Regions from separate parts of the Homo sapiens genome. Here all the other regions are linked to region 3. The links come from fine-mapping of genetic effects on gene expression. A gene starts in region 3. Each other region holds a variant in brackets. All regions are shown on one strand. Distances are between the middles of the regions.

What was found. PIP is the estimated chance that this variant, and not a neighbour inherited with it, causes the effect. A credible set is the group of variants that fine-mapping cannot tell apart.
Region 1: its variant is the best candidate, but not a certain one, in a credible set for the expression of RASSF4 in whole blood (TOPMed, PIP 0.74).
Region 2: its variant is the best candidate, but not a certain one, in a credible set for the expression of RASSF4 in whole blood (TOPMed, PIP 0.80).

The regions. Positions count from the first base shown.
Region 1 is chr10:44,936,539-44,942,870 of GRCh38, forward strand. TMEM72 (transmembrane protein 72) reads left to right here. Exons shown (of 5, transcript NM_001123376.3): 5 at 1-472. All of the region lies in intron 1 of TMEM72-AS1 (TMEM72 antisense RNA 1), which reads right to left. Among named protein-coding and RNA genes, the nearest start is that of TMEM72-AS1, 20 kb to the right of the region's middle. The variant C/G (reference allele first, on the strand shown) is at 1,898.
Region 2 is chr10:44,917,821-44,924,403 of GRCh38, forward strand. All of the region lies in intron 1 of TMEM72 (transmembrane protein 72), which reads left to right. TMEM72-AS1 (TMEM72 antisense RNA 1) reads right to left here. Exons shown (of 8, transcript NR_033842.1): 2 at 5,261-5,406. Among named protein-coding and RNA genes, the nearest start is that of TMEM72, 9.8 kb to the left of the region's middle. RefSeq lists a silencer at 108-289. The variant AC/A (reference allele first, on the strand shown) is at 2,865.
Region 3 is chr10:44,957,064-44,963,464 of GRCh38, forward strand. RASSF4 (Ras association domain family member 4) reads left to right here and starts at 2,739. Exons shown (of 11, transcript NM_032023.4): 1 at 2,739-2,803. TMEM72-AS1 (TMEM72 antisense RNA 1) reads right to left here and starts at 2,626. Exons shown (of 8, transcript NR_033842.1): 1 at 2,529-2,626. RefSeq lists an enhancer at 2,418-2,712 and a silencer at 2,490-2,709.

The sequences.
Region 1 (6,332 bases), 21 kb before region 3:
CAGGTCTCACCAAATGACAAATGGCTAATCAAGACACTCCTGCAAGCCCTTGATGGTGAGAGCTGCAGAGCTGTTTCTTCAGCTGCCATCAAGGCAGGACCTCAGGACCTGACTGTCTACAGTCAGGGAATAGTGAACAATATGGGATATGGGTATAGGTAGGTGGTAGACAAGGATCGTGCCCCATGGCTGATGGGCCGGGTGTCTCAGGCAGGCCCCCTGTGCACAGAAAGAGCCTAAGTGCAGAGAAGCCAGGCATCTTTCCCCTGTCAACTGTGGAAGGGGAATGTGATGGCCACAGACACCCTCATGGCACAGACATGGCCAGCCTCTGACGTTCCTCTGCATCAGAGTAGTTCTGTCCTCGAAGCCCCAGTCAGCAGAGCTGGATGACCAGATCGCAAGAAGCAAACCAGAAAGTGTGATGGCAGAGATGTCAGATCCCGTTTAATAAACACTTCAGTAAACCCAAGTGTGGAGTGTTGTTTTGGGTGTGTTTTAGAGATGTGTGTTGGGAGCACCCTTTTGGAGGTGTCTTAGTGTGTGCCGGGAGTTCCAGTGATGATGCGATGGAATTCTGAGGCACATAGGCTTCCTGGAGATTGTCATCAGTTAAGAGAGTGTCTGCTGGTGTGCAGCATTACAGGACAATTATGATCTTACCTAGGTTAGTAAAGTTCTCAAACACTCTTATGGCTACAAAACAAAAACAAAAAGCTGGAGTGAGATCATTAAATAGGCCAGAATTCTCACCCATCAGTGGACCAAGCAAGAAAGTGGCATCTTCCTCATAAGCAGATGAGCACCACGTGTCTCCATTGATTCTCAGCCTGTGACCTCTATGACCACATCCTTGTCCAGAAGAATCCCTGCAAAGCAGATGTTGTAATGATCTGCATCCTTGCCAAGAAGCAAAGACTAGAAGGACTGGCCCTGCCATGATCCCCCTCCCTACCTCAGCAGAGAGGGGAGCATTTTGTATATGAAGAACAGAGTGACAGGAAGAAGAAAGAGCACCAGGCTGAGCACCATTCGACCTCCACTAATACACGTCTGACCTTGTTCAAGCCCCTTCGCATCTCTGGCTCAGGTTCCCCTATTAAGTGCAAATCACAGCAGTAACTCAACAAGACATGGGCAAGTGCTTTTCAGAACTACAAACAAGTCACTGTGATTGCACTACATCCCTATCCCTACGGGGGACTCGCCGTGAGGGGGCACTGAGGAAGCACCACCCTGACTTGCGTCTGTGGCAAGGCCAGTTCAGGTCCAAGAGCTCCTGTCTCCACTCCAGGTTCCAGGGCTAGAGCCTGGGGAGGGTACAGCCCCCAATGCCTACCTCAGAGGAAAGTCATAGTGGACCCCACATTTCCTAGCAGCTGCACCCTGGGGGTCACACCGTGGGTCCTCTGTCTCCCTCTCCCATCAGCCCTAAGGTGGTTTTTTGTTGTTAGTTTTCTGAAATATCTTTATTGAGATATAATTCATATAACATAAAATTCACCAATTTAAAGTGTACAGCTAGGCCAGGCACAGTGGCTCATGCCTGTAATCCAAGCACTTTGGGAGTCCAAGGCGAGTGGATCACTTGAGCCCAGGAATTTGAGACCAGCCTGGGCAACATAGCAAAACCCTGTTCCTACCAAAAGTACAAAAAATTAGCCAGGCATGGTGGCACACACGTATAGTTCCAGCTACTCAAGAGGCAAAGATGGAAGAATGGTTTGAGCCCAGGAGGTCAAGGCTGCAGTGAGCTGAGATCATTCCACTGCACTCCAGCCTGGGCAACTGAGTGAGACCCTGTCTCAAAATAATCTTTAAAAAATTTTTAAATTAAAAAAAAGTGTACAGCTAAACAGTTTCTAGTAGATTTTTTTTTTTTAATACATGGAGTCTC[C/G]TTTTGTCACCAGGCTGGAGTGCAGTGGTGTGATCTTGGCTCACTGCATCCTCTGCCCCCAGGGTTCAAGCGATGCTCCTGCCTCAGCCTCCTGAGTAGCTGGGACTACAGGCGTGCACCACCATGCCCAGCCATTTTTGTATTTTTAGTAGAGACAGGTTTCACTATCTCGGCCAGGATGGCCTTGATCTCTTGACTTCATGATCCACCTGCCTCAGCCTCCCAAAGTGCTGGGATTATAGGCGTGAGCCACCATGCCAGGCCTCTAGTAGATTCTCAAACTATGTTCATCACAATGTAAATTCACAACATTTTCATCATCCCCCAAAGCAAACACAACCTAGCACCCGTTCGCACTCACTCCCTACCTCCCATCACCTGCCCTAAGCAACCACTAATCTACTTTCTGTCGTATAAATTGAATCATATAATACTGGTTTTTTTGTGACTTTGTTCACTTAGCGTGATATTTCTGAGGTTCATCCATGTCGTAGCATGTATCTTTATTTTATTTCTTCTCATGGCTGAATAATACTCCATTGTATGGATATACTACCTTCTGTTTATCCGTTCGTCTGTTAACGGACACTGGGGTTGTTCCCACTTTGTCCCTATAAAGAATAACGCTGCTATGAACACTCGCGTACATGTTTTTGCATGAACATCTGCTTTCATTTCTCTTGGGTATAAATCTAGGAGTGGAATTGCTGAGTCATATGGTAACTCTGTGTTTAACTTCTTGAGGAAATGCCAAACTGTTTTCTAGAGGGGCTGCGCCATTTTACTTTCCCACCAGCAGTGTATGAGGGTTCTGATTTCTCCACCTCCTTGCCAATACTTGTCATTGTCTTTTTTTATTATAGTCATACATGCACTGTGGCTTTGTAGTTCCTTAATGACCAATGGTGTTGAGCTTCTTTCATGTAATTACTGGCCTTTGAATATCTTTTTTAAGAAGTGTCTACTCAAATGCTTTGCCTGTTTTTTAATTGGGTTATTATTTGTCTTTGTATTTTGAGTTGTAAGAGTTTTTAATGTACTCTGAATACTATACCCTTTCAGATATATGATTGGCAAATATTTTCATCCATTCTGTAGGTTGTCTTTTTAATTTCTTTTTTTTTTTTTTTTTTTTTTGAGACTGGGTCTCACTCTGTCACCCAGACTGGAGTGCAGTGGTGCGATCTCAGCTCACTGCAACCTCCACCTCCCAGGCTCAAGTGATTCTCCTGCCTCATCCTCCCGATTAGCTGGGATTATAGGCGCATGCCACTACTGCCTGGTTATTTTTGTGTTTTTAGTAGAGATGGGGTTTCACCATGTTGGCCAGGCTGGTCTTGAACTCCTGACTTCAAATGATCCACCCCCTTCGACCTCCCAAAGTGCTGAGATTACAGGCGTGAGCCACTGCGCCGGCTTTTTTTACTTTCTTGATAGTGTCCTTTGAGGAAGAAACAATTTAATTTCAGTGAAATTCAATTTTTCTTTTTTTCTTTGTTGTTTATTCTTTTGTGGTCAAATCTGAGAAACTATTGCCTAACCAAAGGTTATGAAGATTTATTTCTATATTTTCTTCTAAGACTTTTATAGTTTTAGTTCTTACATTTAGATCTATGATCAATTTTGAGATAATTATTGTATGTGGTATGAAATGGAATCTAACTTAATTATTTTACATGTGAATATACAATTGTTACAGCACTATTTGTTGACTTGAACTGTCTCGACCTCTTTGTTAAACATTAATAGACTGTAAATGAAAGGGTTTATTTCTGAACTTGCAACTCCAGCCTGTTGATCTGTATGTCTATCCTGATGCCATTGCCACACCATGTATTACTGTAGCTTTGTGGTAAGTTTCGAAACCAGGAAGTCTGAGCCCCCTCCAAGTTTGTTCTTATTTTTCAAAACAGTTTTGGCTATTCAGGGTCCCTTGCACTTCTACATGAATTTTAGGATCAGCTTGTCAACTTCTGCAAAATAGAAAGCTGGGATTTTCATAGGGATTTCTCTGACTCTGTAGATAAATTTGGGGAGTATTCCATTCCATCTGAACAATATTAAATCTTCTGATCCATGAATGTGGGGTGTCCTTCCATGTATTTAGATCTTTAATTTTTTCAACGTTTTGTAGTTTCCAATGTGCAAGTCTCACACTTCTTTTCTTAAAATTATTCCTAAGTATTTTCTTCTTTTCCTTGCTTTTGTGATTGGGATTGTTTTCTTAATTTCATTTTCAGATGCTAGAATGTAGAAATATGATTGGTTTTGTACATGGATTTTGCATTTTGCAAACTTGCTAAACAAATTTATTAGTTACAGTCTTTTTGTTTTGTATTTTGTTTTTGAGACAGGGTCTTTATCTGTTGCCCAGGCTGAGTGCAGTGGCACAATCACGGCTCACTACTGCCTGGAGCTCCCAGGCTCAAACAATCCTCCTACCTTAGCCTGAAAAGTAGCTGGGACTATAGGTGCACACCACCACACCTAATTTGTTACTTTTGATAGAGACAGGGACTCACTATGTTACCCAGGCTGATCTCAAACTCCTGGACTCAAGCAGTCCTCCTGCCTCAGCCTCCCAAAGTGCCAGGATTACAGGAGTGAGCCACCGTGCAGGATTATACAATCTTTTTTTAATGGATACATTGTTATTATCTACATACAATATCATGTCATCTGCAAATATAGAAAGTTTTACTTCTTCCAATTTGGAAGTCTTTTCTTTTTCTTGCCTAATTTCTCTAGCTAGAACATCTAGTACAATGTTGAATAGAAGCAACAAGAGCCAACATTCTTGTCTTGCTCCTGATGGTTGGGGAAAGTATTTCGTCTTTCACCACTGAGTACCATGTTCCTGGTGGATTTTTCACAGATGCCCTGTGTGAGATTGAGGACATTTCCTTCTACTTCCAGTTTGTTGAGTGTTTTTATCATGAAATGGTACTAGATTTTTCGCATGGTCTTTCTGCATCTATTGAATTGATTATGTGGTTTTTGTCCTTTATTGATAAGGTTCATTACATTAATTAACTTTCAGATATTTAATCAACCTTGTATTCATGTAATGCATCCCACTTGCTCATGGTATGTAATCCTTTTACATGGTGCTGGGTTATATTTTATATGTTGATATATTTTGTTGAGGATTTTTGTGTTTCTCTATATAAGGAATACTGGTCTGTAGTTTCTATTCTTGTGATGTCTTTGTCTTATTTTGGAATCAGGGCAATACTGCTCTCATAAAATCAAGAAGTGTCCCCTTCTATTTTTTGAGAGTTTGTGAGAGACTGATATCGATTTTTTGTTGTATTTTGGTAGAATTCACCGGTGAGGCCATTTGGGCCTTGGCCTAATTCAAACTCTTCACTTGATATAGAGCTTCAGATTTTTTGAAAATTTCACCTTTGAATCGGTTTCTATAGTTTGTGTCTTCCTAGAGTTTTGTCCATTTTATCTAAGTTATCTAATTTGTTGGCATAGTATTCCTTTGTAATCTCTCTTATTTCCATAAAATCGATAATTATGCCCCCTCTTTTTATTCCCCATTTTAGTAATTTAAGCCTTCTCTTTTTTCTTGGTCAATCTAGCTAAAATTTTGTCCATTTTCTCAATATTTTCAAAGAAACCACTTGCTTTTATTGATTTTCTGTTTTGTTGTTACAGTCTGTATTTCATTATTTCTTTTCTAATATTTATTTTTTCCTTTCTTCTGCTTACTTTGCACTTAGTTTACTCTTATTTTTCTAGTTTCTTGAGGTGGAAAGTAGGGTTATTGGTATGAAATATGTTTGGGTTTTGTTTGGTTTTGTTTTTTGTTTTGGTTTTTTTTTGAGATGGAGTTTCACTCTTGTTGCCCAGACTAGAGTGCAATGGCGCGACCTCAGTTCATTGCAATCTCTGCCTCCCAGGTTCAAGCAATTCTCCTGCCTCAGCCTCCTGAGTAGCTGGGATTACAGGTGTGTGCCACCACACCCAGCTAATTTTTATTATTAGTAGAGACAGGGTTTCACCATGTTGGCCAGGCTGGTCTCAAACTCCTGACTGTGGTGATCCACCTGCTTTGGCCTCCCAAAGTGCTGGAATTACAGGCGTGAGCCACCGTGTCTGGCCATGTATTTGTTAATATAGACATTTACAGCTATAAATTTCAGAGCACTGCTGTGACTGCATTTCATATGTTTTGGTATATGCTGTGTTTTTGTTTTCATTCATCTCAAAGTATTTTCTAGTTTACCTTGTGACTTCTTCTTTTGATCTGTTGGTTATTTATGAGTGTGTTATTTAATTTATACCTATTCTAACTCAATTCCATTGTGGTTGGCAAACCCATTTGGTATGATTTCAATTCCTTTAAATGCATTGGATTTGTATTATGGCCTACCATACTGTCTAACTTGAAGGGTATTCTACATGATCTTAAGTAGAATGTGTG
Region 2 (6,583 bases), 39 kb before region 3:
CTCCCTGAACACTGAGAAGGAATAGGAAGTGAATACCTCGGTTCTCCCTGACATTGAGACCTAAAAGAAATTTCTCCTGTGGGCCTGTATAAGTTTGTTTTCACACTGCTGATAAAGACATGCCCAAGACTGGGCAATTTACAAAAGAAAGAGGTTTAATTGGACTTAGAGTTCCATGTGGCTGAGGAAGCCTCACAATCATGGTAGAAGGCCAGGAGGAGCAAGTCACATCCTACATGGATGGCAGCAGGCAAGGAGAGACAGCTTGTGTGGGGGAATTCCTCTTTTTAAAACCATCAGATCTCTTGAGATTTATTGACTATCACGAGAACAACACGTGAAAAACTTGCCCCCCTGATTCAATTACCTCCTGCTGGTCCCTCCCACAACAGGTGGGAATTCAAAATGAGATCTGGGTGGGAACACAGCCAAACCATACCAGGGTACTTACAAGGGAGATGCTATTCTACGTGGGAGACACTATCCTCAGTAGTGCCAATGAACCATATGGGTCTGCAGAGTCCTTCCTCATCACCAAAGAGTGGGGTATCAGCACAGATGGCCTCACAGGTGAATTCTACCAACACTTAAGGAAGAAATATCTATTCCACACAAACTCTTCCAGAAATTTGAAAGGAGGCAATACTTCTCAACTCATTCTATAAAATTAGTATTTATGTGGATACCAAAACCAAAGATATTACAAGAAAACTATAGACTAATATTCTTCTCAATATAGATGCAAAAATTCTAAGCAAAGTTTTAACAAATACAAATATATTGAAAGAATGATATATCATAATCAAGTGGAGTTCATCTCAGAAATGCAAGGTTGTTTTAATATTTGAAAAATCAATTAATGTAACTTACCATGTGTTATGGACTAAATGTTTGTGTCCCCCCAGCCAAATTCATATGTGGAAATCCTAACACCCAACATGATTGTATTAGGAGGTAGGGCCTTCTCTGAATGGAAATAATGCCCTTATAAAAGAGACCTGAGAGAGCTCCCTAGGCCCTTCTATCATACAATGTGCGGTAACAGTGAGAAGACAGTTTTCTATAAGGAAGGGGTCCCTCAGATACCAAATCTGCCAGCATCTTGATCTTGCATTTCCCAGCCTCCAGCACTGTAGGAAATAAATTTCTGTTGTCTATAAGGTACCCAGTATATGGGATTTGGTTATAGCAGCCGAAATGGACTAAGACATCATATTTAAAAACTAAAAAAGAAAAACCATATTATCATCTAAATAGACACAAAGTTTTAAACGAAATCCAACATTCTTTTATGATTAAAATAAAACTATCATCAGCAAACTAGTAACAGAAGGAAACTCCCTCAACCTTAAGAGGTCATTACAGAAAACATACATCTACTTAAATGTAAAAGACCAGGTGCTTCCTCCTAAGATTAGGAACAAGGCAAGGGTGTCCACTCTACCACGTCCAGTCAGCATTGTACTGGAGGTTCTAGCCAGTGCAAGAAACAGAAACAAAATGCATACAGATTGTCCAGGAAAAAGAAAAATTTTATTCACAGATGACGTTATCATCTGTAGAAAATCTAATAGAATCTACCCCAAAAGCTACTTGAGCTAATGGAGGGAATGGCAACATTGCAGAAGACAAGCTTAATATATAATAATCAACTGTATTTCCATACATTAGCAACAAACAATTAGAAAATGAAATCTTTAAAAATACAAATTATAATAGCATTGAAAATCCGAAATATTTAGGGATAAATCTGACAAAAGATGTAAAACAAACTACACTAGAAACTAGAAAACATTGCTGAGAGATAACAAAGAAAATCTAAATGAATGGAGATGCATCTTGTTGATGGGTCAGAAGGCTCAATATCGTTAAGACATCAGTTCTCCCCCAAATTGCTATACAGTTTCAATAGGAGCTCAATCTGAAGTCTCTTCCAACTGAATGTCCAGAAATATCTGCCATGAAATCCTTCCCTTTTCCCACACTGTCTCTGAACCCTGGCTCATGTATATCAGCTGAACTGATCTCCACACGTAGGTAAACCTCCCCACCATGCTTACTGTTTGCCACAACTTCTGAGCTAAGAAGCCTGTGGCTACTACCTTACTGTCCCAGTGAATTCACAGCAACTGTTTCCAGCAACTCCATAGTCTTGGAAATGGTACAAATCTAGCTTTTCACCTCTACCCTGGCGGTGACCACCTCTCCTGGACCATCCACGCCCATTGTCATCAGCCTGGAGCGTCTTTCCCTGAGGTGTCTTTGGACACCCTGAGTCCAGCAGGAGATGAGAATGAAAAGAAGCAATAAATATACGCGGTGGGTTCGGAGGCTGCCCTCAGCAACAGTGAGTACAAAATTCTCATCCAATGCCCAGGGCATCCAGTGCCAAGGTTAGTGTGGCCTCTGATGACTGTGAAGCGTCCCATGTTACCACCAAGGGCATCACAATAAATGCAAGACATATGTCACAATTCAACCCATGGAGTCAGAACGGATAAGCAACAGTGGATCATGAGGTCAGCCCTATGGCAAAAGCAGCAGCAGCCTGAGGCCAGGGGAATATCCCCTCAGTAGGCAGCCCCGCAGATGGCCCCAGCCTCAGGAACATGCTGGCCTGAGCCCCGTGGGGACCCTAGCAGGGTTATGGAGGGCTAATACAAGAGATGTGGAGATAGATGGGAGTTTGGGTCACTTATATCCCAACTGGGCTTTGAGAAGGGACCTCAAAGTAAATTAGTGAACAACAAGCAACACTGGTGCACAGGGAACAGCTTTTTGGCCACAAAAAAACCCACAAGTGTGTTAATGGGAGCAAAGGATGAGAATAAACCCTCTCCTTCCACTGGAGAATACTGATGGGA[AC/A]CGCCTGCCTCTTATAATAGCTTTCCTAGCCATCGTCTGCATTTGTGCAGCACTCTCATTTACTTAGACTGAGCAGTGGTCGGCACCATTTTGCATGTTTTTATTTTCCCCATTTTCCAGAATAAGATGCAGACCAAAGAGTTAATCACTTTCCTGAGGATGCAGGACTCAGCTTTTCTGATGCAGGCCCCATATTCTTTCTGCTCTGGTGCAGCCCCCTCCTAGCTTTCGTCAACCCATGCTGAGACCAGAGCTCCAGGATGAGAAGGATACTCACACAGTGGCTGCCCTGCCCAGGGCTGTACCACAGGCTCTTGGCCCAGGATCTCTGATCTCTGCTAAGCCTGAACTACAACAAACAGCTCAGGAAAGCAACACAGAAGCAAGCCCTGGACCCTGAGAGAAGAAAGTTCTTGTACCAAGGTTGGATCTGGCCCACACAGGAGGGACAGAGACTGGAGGGAAGGAGCTAACAAGATGAGAGAGGCCAGGCTTGTCCATGAATGGCTCCATCAAGGTGCGATGCAAGGCACCTCCTGGGATCATGCAGGGAGTGAGACAGAGGCGTGGGGTGAGCTGTGCTGGAGTGGGCATAAGGTACCTCTGTTGGGCTGGGGTGAGAGTAGCTGGGGAGCCTGAGGTGGGATAATAGGGAGGGATGGAAGGAGTCAAAGGCCACTAATGGCCGTGTCAAGCAGTGCTGTTCAGTGTTCCCTTGCCCCTCCACCTGGGCAGGAAAGACAGCACAGCCGGACTGAAGCACATCTCAGGGCGATTATTTCTTGTAGAGAATTTGGTGTCATGAGGCTCTGATTCTGCGGGTAGCAGGGCCTTTGTCCCATTGTTTGTCTCCATTGATTGGCTCCTGATCATTGATCAGCTAATCCAAAAATCAGCTCTTCAGTCCCTGGTCCCAGCTCAGGGTAATGCCCTGGGGGTATCTGTTCCAGTGAGTTGCTGATTCAGGCCAACCACTTCCACACTGGACTAGCACCCTGTGAAGGCAGAGCTTCCAAGACACCAGCCCCACTGCCCTGTGAGAAGTATGGAAGGCCAGAGCGCAGGCTAAATTCCAAGAGGAGCTAGAAGCCCTCAGACTCTGGGCCTCCCAAATCTCTAGATGCCAGGGCCAGAGCTACCACTCTCAGGGCCCACGAAGGGCCTACACTGCGCCTGAGGGAGGGAGTACCACCTTGGGCTTAGACTGAAGGCCACATTAAATTACAATGAGGGCCCCCTTAATTTTAAGAGGAGCACCTCCTTCATTGTAGAACACCTCCTTAATTTAATGGCAAATATCTTCTTAGTCTTAGGGAGAACACCTCCTTAATGAATGAGCACCTCTGTAATTTTAGGAGGTGTGCCTCCCTAATTTTGAGCCCTGGTGTCCTTCTGGGCCCACTCTGCTCCTAGTTATCCGGGTGCCATAACTTCTTTGTGTTTAACAGAGAGCCCCGCCTAAATCTGAAACCTGGCAGAAACCTAAGGTCCAATTCCACAAAACAAGGAGTGGGCTGTCCTCATCCACAGGTTGAAGTGAGGCCTTTGAGAGGGCGGGGGCCCACCTGTGCAGTCTCCGGGAACAGACGCTCAGCAGACTGGAGAGGAGCTCCTTCTTACCTGTGACAATCCCATTCTTCATTCAAGCCCCCACTAAATTTCAGGCCACACTTCATGTTCACCTCCTGCCAATTCTGGAGAACAGTCCCCTGGAAAAAAAACTTTTGGGAAACTCCAGGCCCTGTGTGAAAACACTTTGGGGTCCTATATCTATGTCATGTGGAACTGTGATACCTTCCAAAAATATTTTGTTCCCAGTACAGTCCAGTTAGCACACCAGGCTAGGAGCTTCCACAGCCAGTCCCAACATGGCTCTCTGGGGTGAGTGTTGGATACGGTTCACAAAATTCCTGCAGCAAGGAATCTCACTTCTTGCTTTCTTTACTTTTTCTACTGGGAATGTTTGCAAAATGCAACTGTGGGAGGGACCTGCTTTGGATGATACAGGATTCTCCTCCACAGATCCTCTATGAAGTCTTAAGTTATAAAACCACCAATAGGATTCCATGACCCAGTGGAAGTCCCCAGACACCATCTGTATTCCTAGGAGCCTGAATCTCCAAGGCTATGGGGCAGGTGCTGCAGGACCCAGAAATGCTTACTCCTGAGGAGTCACAATATAATGTTTACTCTAAGGCGTCAGGCCAGACACAGAGACTTCTATGCCAAAAACCTCAGGTGGCTAGATGACTGAATTAGCTGCTTTTCCAGTTAACCTTGCATGGCTGCATAACAGCCCACTCTAAAACGTAGTGATGTAAGGCTACAATCATTTGATTATACTCAAAACTTTGTGATTCGGAAATTCTGGCAGAACTCAGTGGAGGCGGCTCACCTCTACTCCATGATAACTGGGGCCACAGATGGGGTCACAGGTAGGGTGGCTGGCATGGCTCACGTGGCTGAGGTGGCTCATCTGGTGCTTTGGTTCTGATTGTTGTCTGGGTCCATCACTTCCAGTCTATGTCACATCTGCTGGAGCTGGAATGTCAAAGATAACTTCTTCCATCATTTGTCCTGTGCAATGCTGAACCAGCTGGGGCTGTTGTGCCTCTCTCTCTCTCTCTTTTTCTCTCTCTCTCTCTCTCTCTCTTTCTCTTCCTTTCTCTCTTTCTCTCTCTCACTCTCATTTCTCCCTCTCACTCTTATTTCTCCCTCTCTCTTTTTACAAGTCTCTCTACAAGGCTGGCTTGGGCTTCCTCACAATATGTCGGTCTCACTCCTCAGGGATTAGCAGGTGTGTCTTCACAGCAAAACCATTCTTAGCCAATTTTCCTGAGAGATGGCAGCCAGCACATCGCTGAGAAAACTGGGAGACCTTAGAGTTGGCAGTTCCCACTTGGGAGATGTGCAGAGGAAACAAGACGTATGGAGAGGGCCTACTGTCTACATGGCGTGTGGTGGCACCTGAGTGAGGGGCAACAGGGCTGACATGCCCAGGAAGCTTCCAATCCCAGACACCTCCTGGCCAGCCCACACCTCTGCCCCCCTACTGCCCAGATAAAGTCCAAACATCAACATGCAATGGCAGGGCATGCCTTCTGCTTTATGCCTGGGAAGCCTCCTTCTCTGGGTCCCCAGACAGAACAGACCCTCCACTCTTCTGGGCCTCTATGCCAAGCGCCCTGCTGTGCCACTGGACAGTAAAGCCACCTGCACCACACCACCAGGAGCCACAGCCAGAACTGTGCTTCAAGCCCAAGTCAACAAAGAAACTAGCAGATACCCTGTGCTGGGAGAGGGAGTGGCCAGGAGCACCTGGAGCTGGTCTCTGTCCCTCAGCCACCACCAAATATCACTGAAGTCTCTCACCATCTGCACGGGGTCAGGGAGCTTTCTGAAATACCAATCTAAACACGAGTCCCTTCTGCTCACGCTGCAGAGCCCAATATTTAAGAACCCCACAGTCGCCTTGATCCACATGCACTGCCCATTGCCCCCGACTGTGCCCCTGCTTCTGCTGTTAGGGGCCCCCACACCCTGCAGTGCCTGGCCCCTCCATCTGCACAGGTCTATTCCTGCTGCTTTCCTAGTCCACTCTACCTTCATCGTTATTCATCTTCCCTGATAGTCCCACGAGTGGCCCCTCCTGTCTGGCCCCAGAGCTCCTGGGTGAGTCCCTCGTCCAGCTTGGGTTACTGCCCTCGCTGAATGCACT
Region 3 (6,401 bases):
CGTCCAGAAGTAGGTCGTATGGCCACTTCTAGCTTCACTGAAAAAAAGCTATGAAAAGGATTGTCAAGACTTAGACAGCTGTTTTGTTTTTTTTAACTGTAACCCACAGTAAGAAGCACACATAACTGAAACATAAACAATGCAAACAAAAAGTTCCACAAAACACAACTTATATTTACTATTTGTGCTGTACACTGGTATTTTCCCTTGCATTTTTGAAGTACTAGTCACATCATCAACTAAATTAATTTCATGACCCACTATTGGGTTGTAAGTAGAGTATGAAAAATACAAGTGGGCATGAGCCATAACTAGGGGCTGGCATGTTGCTGCTACAGACAAGTGGGTATTTCTCTCTCCTTTCCTTCCCTCCCTCCCTCTCTCTTTCCTCTCTTCCCCATTCCCTCTTTCCTCCCTCCCTCCTTCCTTCCCTCCTTTCCTTCCTTCCTTCCCTCCTTTCCTTCTTTCCTTCCTTCCTTCCGTCCTTCCTTCCTTCCTCCCTCCCTCTTTCCCTTTCTTCCTTCCTTCCTTCCTTTTTGTCCTTTTCCTTCTTTCCTATCTTTCTTTTTTCCAAAGAAGGAAATGGACATTGGCTGGCAACCAACAGTATCTGTAGCCTCCACCATAAGTGAGCTGGAGACCACACCCAGTTCTACTGAACCCTGAAAGAAAAGGTGACCCCTCCTTCTGAGGGGTCTGACAATGGACCCTCCCCTTCTGAGGGGAGGACGCTGACAATGGACACCTGTGTCTGATGTAAAATGCAAGCACTCACAGCCATAAAAGAGAATAAAATCGTGTCCTTTGCAGCAGGATGGATGTGGCTGGATGCCATTATCCTAAGCGAACTAATGCAGAAATAGAAAAGCAAACACCACATGTTCTCGCTTACAAGCAAAAGAGCTAAATATCGGGTTCACCTAGACATAAAGATAAAAACAATAGACACTGGGGACTTCAAAAGTGGGAGGGAGACAGCGGGGCGAGGGGTGAAAAACTTCCTATTGGGTACTATGCTCACCATCTGGGTGACAGGATCAATCCCAAACCTCAGTACCACACAATGTACAATTGTAACAAACCCGCACGTGTATCCCCTAAATTTAAAATAAAAATGGAAATTTTAAAAAATGCAAGCAGTAACACCAACTGCCCAGGAGTGCTGGGGGAATTGCATGGGATCCCCAATGTAAAGCACTAGCATAGTGTCTGAGCCCACAATGGGTGCACAGGACACATGGGGTTGCTGTCCCAAACCCAGTCCTCACTCAGAGCCAGTCATGGCCCTGTGAACAGCATTAATTAGGTCAGAGAGAATGATTCACACTCGAGTTCTGGAGAGCCCAGGGAAACTGTTATGTCACCCTGGTGCTATGTTTACTTCTCCTATCAGGAGTGATTAAATTCTTAGGATCTCATGCTCAGAGGTTGACAGTTATATTGAATTTTACCCACTTTTAAAAAACCTTTGGAAGCACCCGATTATTTGTCTCAGCTTTGATGAGGGCTGTGGAAGAGCAAATGTGTCATGACAAGTCACCAACCACAGGGAGCCTCAGAGCTGTCAAAGGATGGGCCATTCTCCAAAAATTCAAGCAAACGCAGAAACGGGAGGGCCCCTGGACTGGGTATCTTCAGTCCTGTCACTTTTTGCAGGTGGGGGTTCCAACATAAGTCATACAGCAGCCATACAAGCATTAGCACAGCCCCTCTAAGTCGAAGTTCAGGGACCCATGAGACTCAAATCCCAGGCTGATTTTGGTGCATATGGCCACCTGCACTTTCTAGAAGATCCATATCAGATTCTAAAATGGCCATGAGACCCTAAAAATATTAGGAAACGCACACTGAATGAAACTAAAATGATTTATGTTAGGGGTGGGAGAGAACAGGTCCAGAGGTCAGAGCTGGGAATCGTGAGGTAAAGCAGAAATTGCAAATGTTTTCCATCAACCCCATCCCCCACCTTGACACCCCCACACCCCAGAAACACTGAACTGTTCCCAGTTCCCCAAATGGCTTGTGGTTTTCTGTCCTCTCTGCCTCCGTGCTGGCAAATATTCGTCCAGGAGGCAGTGACTGGGAGAGAAAGACTAACTTCTTATTCACCAGATCGGATTTCTTAAACAATAAGGAGTTCTAAGAGGCCATGCCAAGCAAACGGCCAGACTGTACAAAGGTGCCCCTTGAGCAATAAATAGCAAATGCTCTGGGCTTTACTGATAAGCCTCCCCAGACTCCAAGCCCCACCAGGCATGCAGACAAGTGCCTGCAGTGATTGCAGCGCCTGCGCAGCGGCCCTTGTTGGAAGTCCAGGAGTCCGCGCTACCCCGCAAAGTCCCTGGCCGCTGCCCGCACACCGAACCTCTCGGGGCTGAGTCGGGCTGCTTTCTCCTCGCGTCCCGGGGCGCCCTCGGGAACTCGGGAGCGCGCGGCGAGCTGAACAATGGCCTGGGGACACCTGGCAGGTCGCAGGCCCCAAATCTTCCCCGCCGCCCCTAGGCCACCGCCCTGCACCCGGAACCTACCGGCGTTCCCAGAGCGGGGCGGACGGGGCGGTGCCATTGGCCGGTGCGGAGTGAGGGGCGTGCTCGGGGCGGGACGGAGAGACCGGGGCGGCACCTTTGGCCGTGCCGGGCGAGAGGCGGGGAGCGGGGCGGGGCGAGGGGCGAGGGGCGGGGCGAGGGGCGGGCCTGGCCCCGAGCAGCTGAAGCCTGGGGTCAGCAGGCGCTGCGGGCGCAGCTCCGGTGCAAGCGAGGACACGACACATGCAGTGGCTTCTGGACTGCGCGATGACTGGACGGTGAGTGATGAACGAGCAGGAGAGTGCTTGGGCGTCCATGGAGCATCCCCTCCGACCCAGGACTGCCACCAGGCAGGGACGCTGAAGCCTGGGCACTTGTGCCCTTCGGCCGCAGCGCGCAGGGTCCCTCCCCCGCCAGCCTGGCGCATTGCGGGCCTCGGGCTCATTGCTGAGAGGGGGCACTGCGCCTGGCACCTCTGTTAAGCAATTTAGGGGCTACAACCTGAGCAAGACAGATGAGCCCGGCCACTGGCTACACCTTTTTTGTTCACCTTGTCCTTAACCAGTTTCCTAGAAGCACTGATCCTAGAGTTGGGGAGAGAGCCTAGAGGCCTCTGGCACAACTCTGATTTCACTGATGGAAATCGAACGCCAAGATAATAGCAGCAGGGGGGGTCTGTCTCACAATCGCTGTCTGTAGAGGGCTCGCCTTGCTCTGGGCCAAGTGCTTTAACACGATATGCCTCTTACTCCTCACAGCAAGTGAGAGTCCTACTTTCGTTATCCCCTTTTCAGATGTGAAAACTGAGGCTTAAAGAGTTATAAAATTGTCCACCTTTACCGGATGAGTTGGTGATGGAGCCAGGATTTGAACCCAGGGCTTGTTGTGCCCCTGAGTCTCTTGCTCTTCACCCTTAGTCTCCGAAGGTCAGCCTGCCTGCTGCCCTGCTCTTCTGGGCTCCTGACTCCGGTCCCATCCTGCACTTCCCACTTCCAAAACATGCCTCAGTGTTTTCATTAACCTGGCACGGCGGAGGGAGGGAGGCCTCCTCTCACACCAGAATCAGTGCCCAGGCCAGGGCCAGCACTTTCTTAAAACACAGTAAGGACAGCTTCAGGAGCCCCATTTCACATAGGAATTAAATAAGGTCGCACAGCAAATAAGGGCTGGGCTTCTGGAATTTGAACCCAAGCAGGTTAGACTCCAAAGCTATGCTTTGCACTCACAGAGGAGCCCCTCGCTGGCTTTGCTGTAGTTTAACTGCCCACAGTACTAAGGTGTCAATCAGGATTTGTTGCCAGAAACCATTTTTTTTTAAGTTAGAAGTGAATTGGTGAAGTAACAGGTAAATGTAGACCATCCTGCCTTCTGTTCCTCTGTGTGGTTCCTTAGCTACTTCTGCCAGGACAGCAGGTTAGGGGAGAAGACAGGAAGGGAGAGGGTCAGAGGAGAAAGAGGAAGGGAGGGAAGAGGAGAGATGAAACTCATTAAACTTAGGTTAAAAAAATGCTGGCCGGAAATTGTCATGGGCTGTTTCAGCACTTTGTCAGTGTATGTGAAGGCTGTTGTCATTAGTTCTAGCCATAATTCTCTCAGTGTGTAGTGCTGGTGATTTGACAACAAAAAGGTTGATGCTACAGATTAAAGTGTCTGTCTGAAACTCAGGAGATTGGGTTGTATTTCCACCATGAAGCTCCAGTGGGTAGCCTGGAGGTCGAGAACAGAATCAAGGTCCAGGGTCGCCCTGGGTCAGGACCAAGTGGACCATGACAGATAACAAAGAACATGAACGAAACTTGGGTGTGTGTCAGAGTTCAGATTCTGGACGTGCAAAGCCTCAAAGGGGAGACCTAACTAGGGGATCTGCCAGAAAGCCCTCTGCCCTGGGCCCCTGGGGTCTGGGGCCTGGTTTCAGGTGTCAGCTCAGACTCTCTCCTCATTCATGGCCACTCCTGCAGGCAGGCCTCACATTCCCATCTCTGGGGCTCCACAGTCTCTCCAGAGCCCCCAACTCCCAGTGTCAATAAGAATAGTAATGGGAGCCTCTTTTCATTATGGGTGAGCCCAACACAAGGCCCATCTTACAGGTCTCCTCATTCGTCTTCACAGAAGTCATCGAGGATTATAGTTATTTAATTGATGAGGAGCCCAAGGTTCAGAGAGGGAACTGGACTTGCTTAAGGTAACAGAGCCAGGCAGTCACAGAGCAGAGCTTTAAACCCAGAGCCTTGCAAAGGCTAGGTGGTTATTCTCTCACAGAGTATGTTTGGGGAAATTGTTTTAAAATAAAGAAAATCAAATAAGAAGTGGCTGCACTTCCTAAAGCTTCAACAGTTTTCTTATTTTTGTAAAAGAGAAACTTGTAGTTCCCGGGGTCTCCTTTTCTGGCTGTCCCACCTTCTGCCCTAGGATATACTGTTGAGGAAGAGGCCCGGAACCCCCTCCCTTTGCCCTGCCTGACCTTGGGAAGCAGGGGTGGGGTGTCATTGAGCCCCATAGCTGCAGTGCTGGGAAGAGCCCTGAAGACTCTCTATCAGCTGCCACAACAGCTCTGGCTAAACTGATGCCCAAGAGACGGCGCAACACGCTAGGATCACAGGCCAAGTTAATGCCACAGCAAAACTCACATGCAAGGCTCTACAACGTTCCTCTGCCTCCTCTTTCTTGCTGTGACAGGTTTCAGCAGAGATTCTAAACCTAAGATCTGGGGATCTGGGAGTACATGGACAAGAGCTGTCTCATCTCCCTGCAGTGATATGCAAATTGTGTGTGTGTTTGCACGTGGATGCAGATTGCAACAACATGCACATACATGCATTTTCTGGGGAGAGTGCACTAAGCTTTCAAGAGACTCCAAAGGACTCTATGACCCAAAAGATTCTGGGACCCTTTTGTCTCACAGGGCCCTTATGTCCCCAGCAGTGACATGTGGCACACAGGCCTGGGGCAGTGGACAGCACAGGTGAGGGCAGCCGTAGAGAGCCTCCAGAGCAGCCCTGCAGCAGCAGGCACCCAGAGGGGTCTGCCCCTCTGCATTGCACTCCCAGCCCCAGGCAATCGGGATATTGGACAGTGCCCATTTTGAGCACGTTTGGCCCGAAAACCATAGCTAAGAAGATCTTTGTTTCTGTGGATCTTCTCTTCCATAGGCTAGAGGTGAGCCTGGTTGGTGGGGAAGTTGAGGAGTGGTTCAGGGGGTTCCAGGAGCAGAGAATGTATGTTTAAGGTGTAAGGGGGGAGCAGGAGGACTGGAAATGGTTTTCTTGTCCCAAATTGCTTTGCCTTGAAACAAGGGCAGAAGCCAGAAGTCTTGCCCACTGGGAAGGCTGGTCTGCGATCTACATGGCTGCTCAGGGCCAGGCTCTCAGAGGAAGGGGAGCTGTATCAGGGAGGCCTGGATGCTGGACTGGACTCAGAGAGACCTGTCAGTGAGAGGCCAGAACCGCAGCGGGGAGTAAAGGTGAGCTGGGCCTGTGTGGTCAGTCCAGGGCAAGGCGGGAGTGGAGGTGGAGGGGAGCTCTGTGCCCGCCTCTCCTGGACTCCCCTGGTCTCCATCACCTCCACCTGGACAGTGCAGAGTCTTCTGGGGCAGGGAGGAGTGAGTTGAGCCAGAGGGATGATGGCGGGAGTGGAGAGGAGGGGTCTGGTGATTGGAACTGGGCAGCAGGAGGGGACAGCAGTGTGGAAGGAGGTGGGAGCAGCAGCTGCTGAGTCGCCGCCTGCCATCTACAACCAGACAGCCGGCTCTCACCACAAAAATGCTTGGCTGAGGGTACCCCCTCAGAGGCACCTGGTTTCGGCAGACGCTGCAACTTCTTCACTGGCCAGGCTCCTGCCATTTGCTGGCGAACAGGTGCTGGGAGGGGCCTTTTAAAG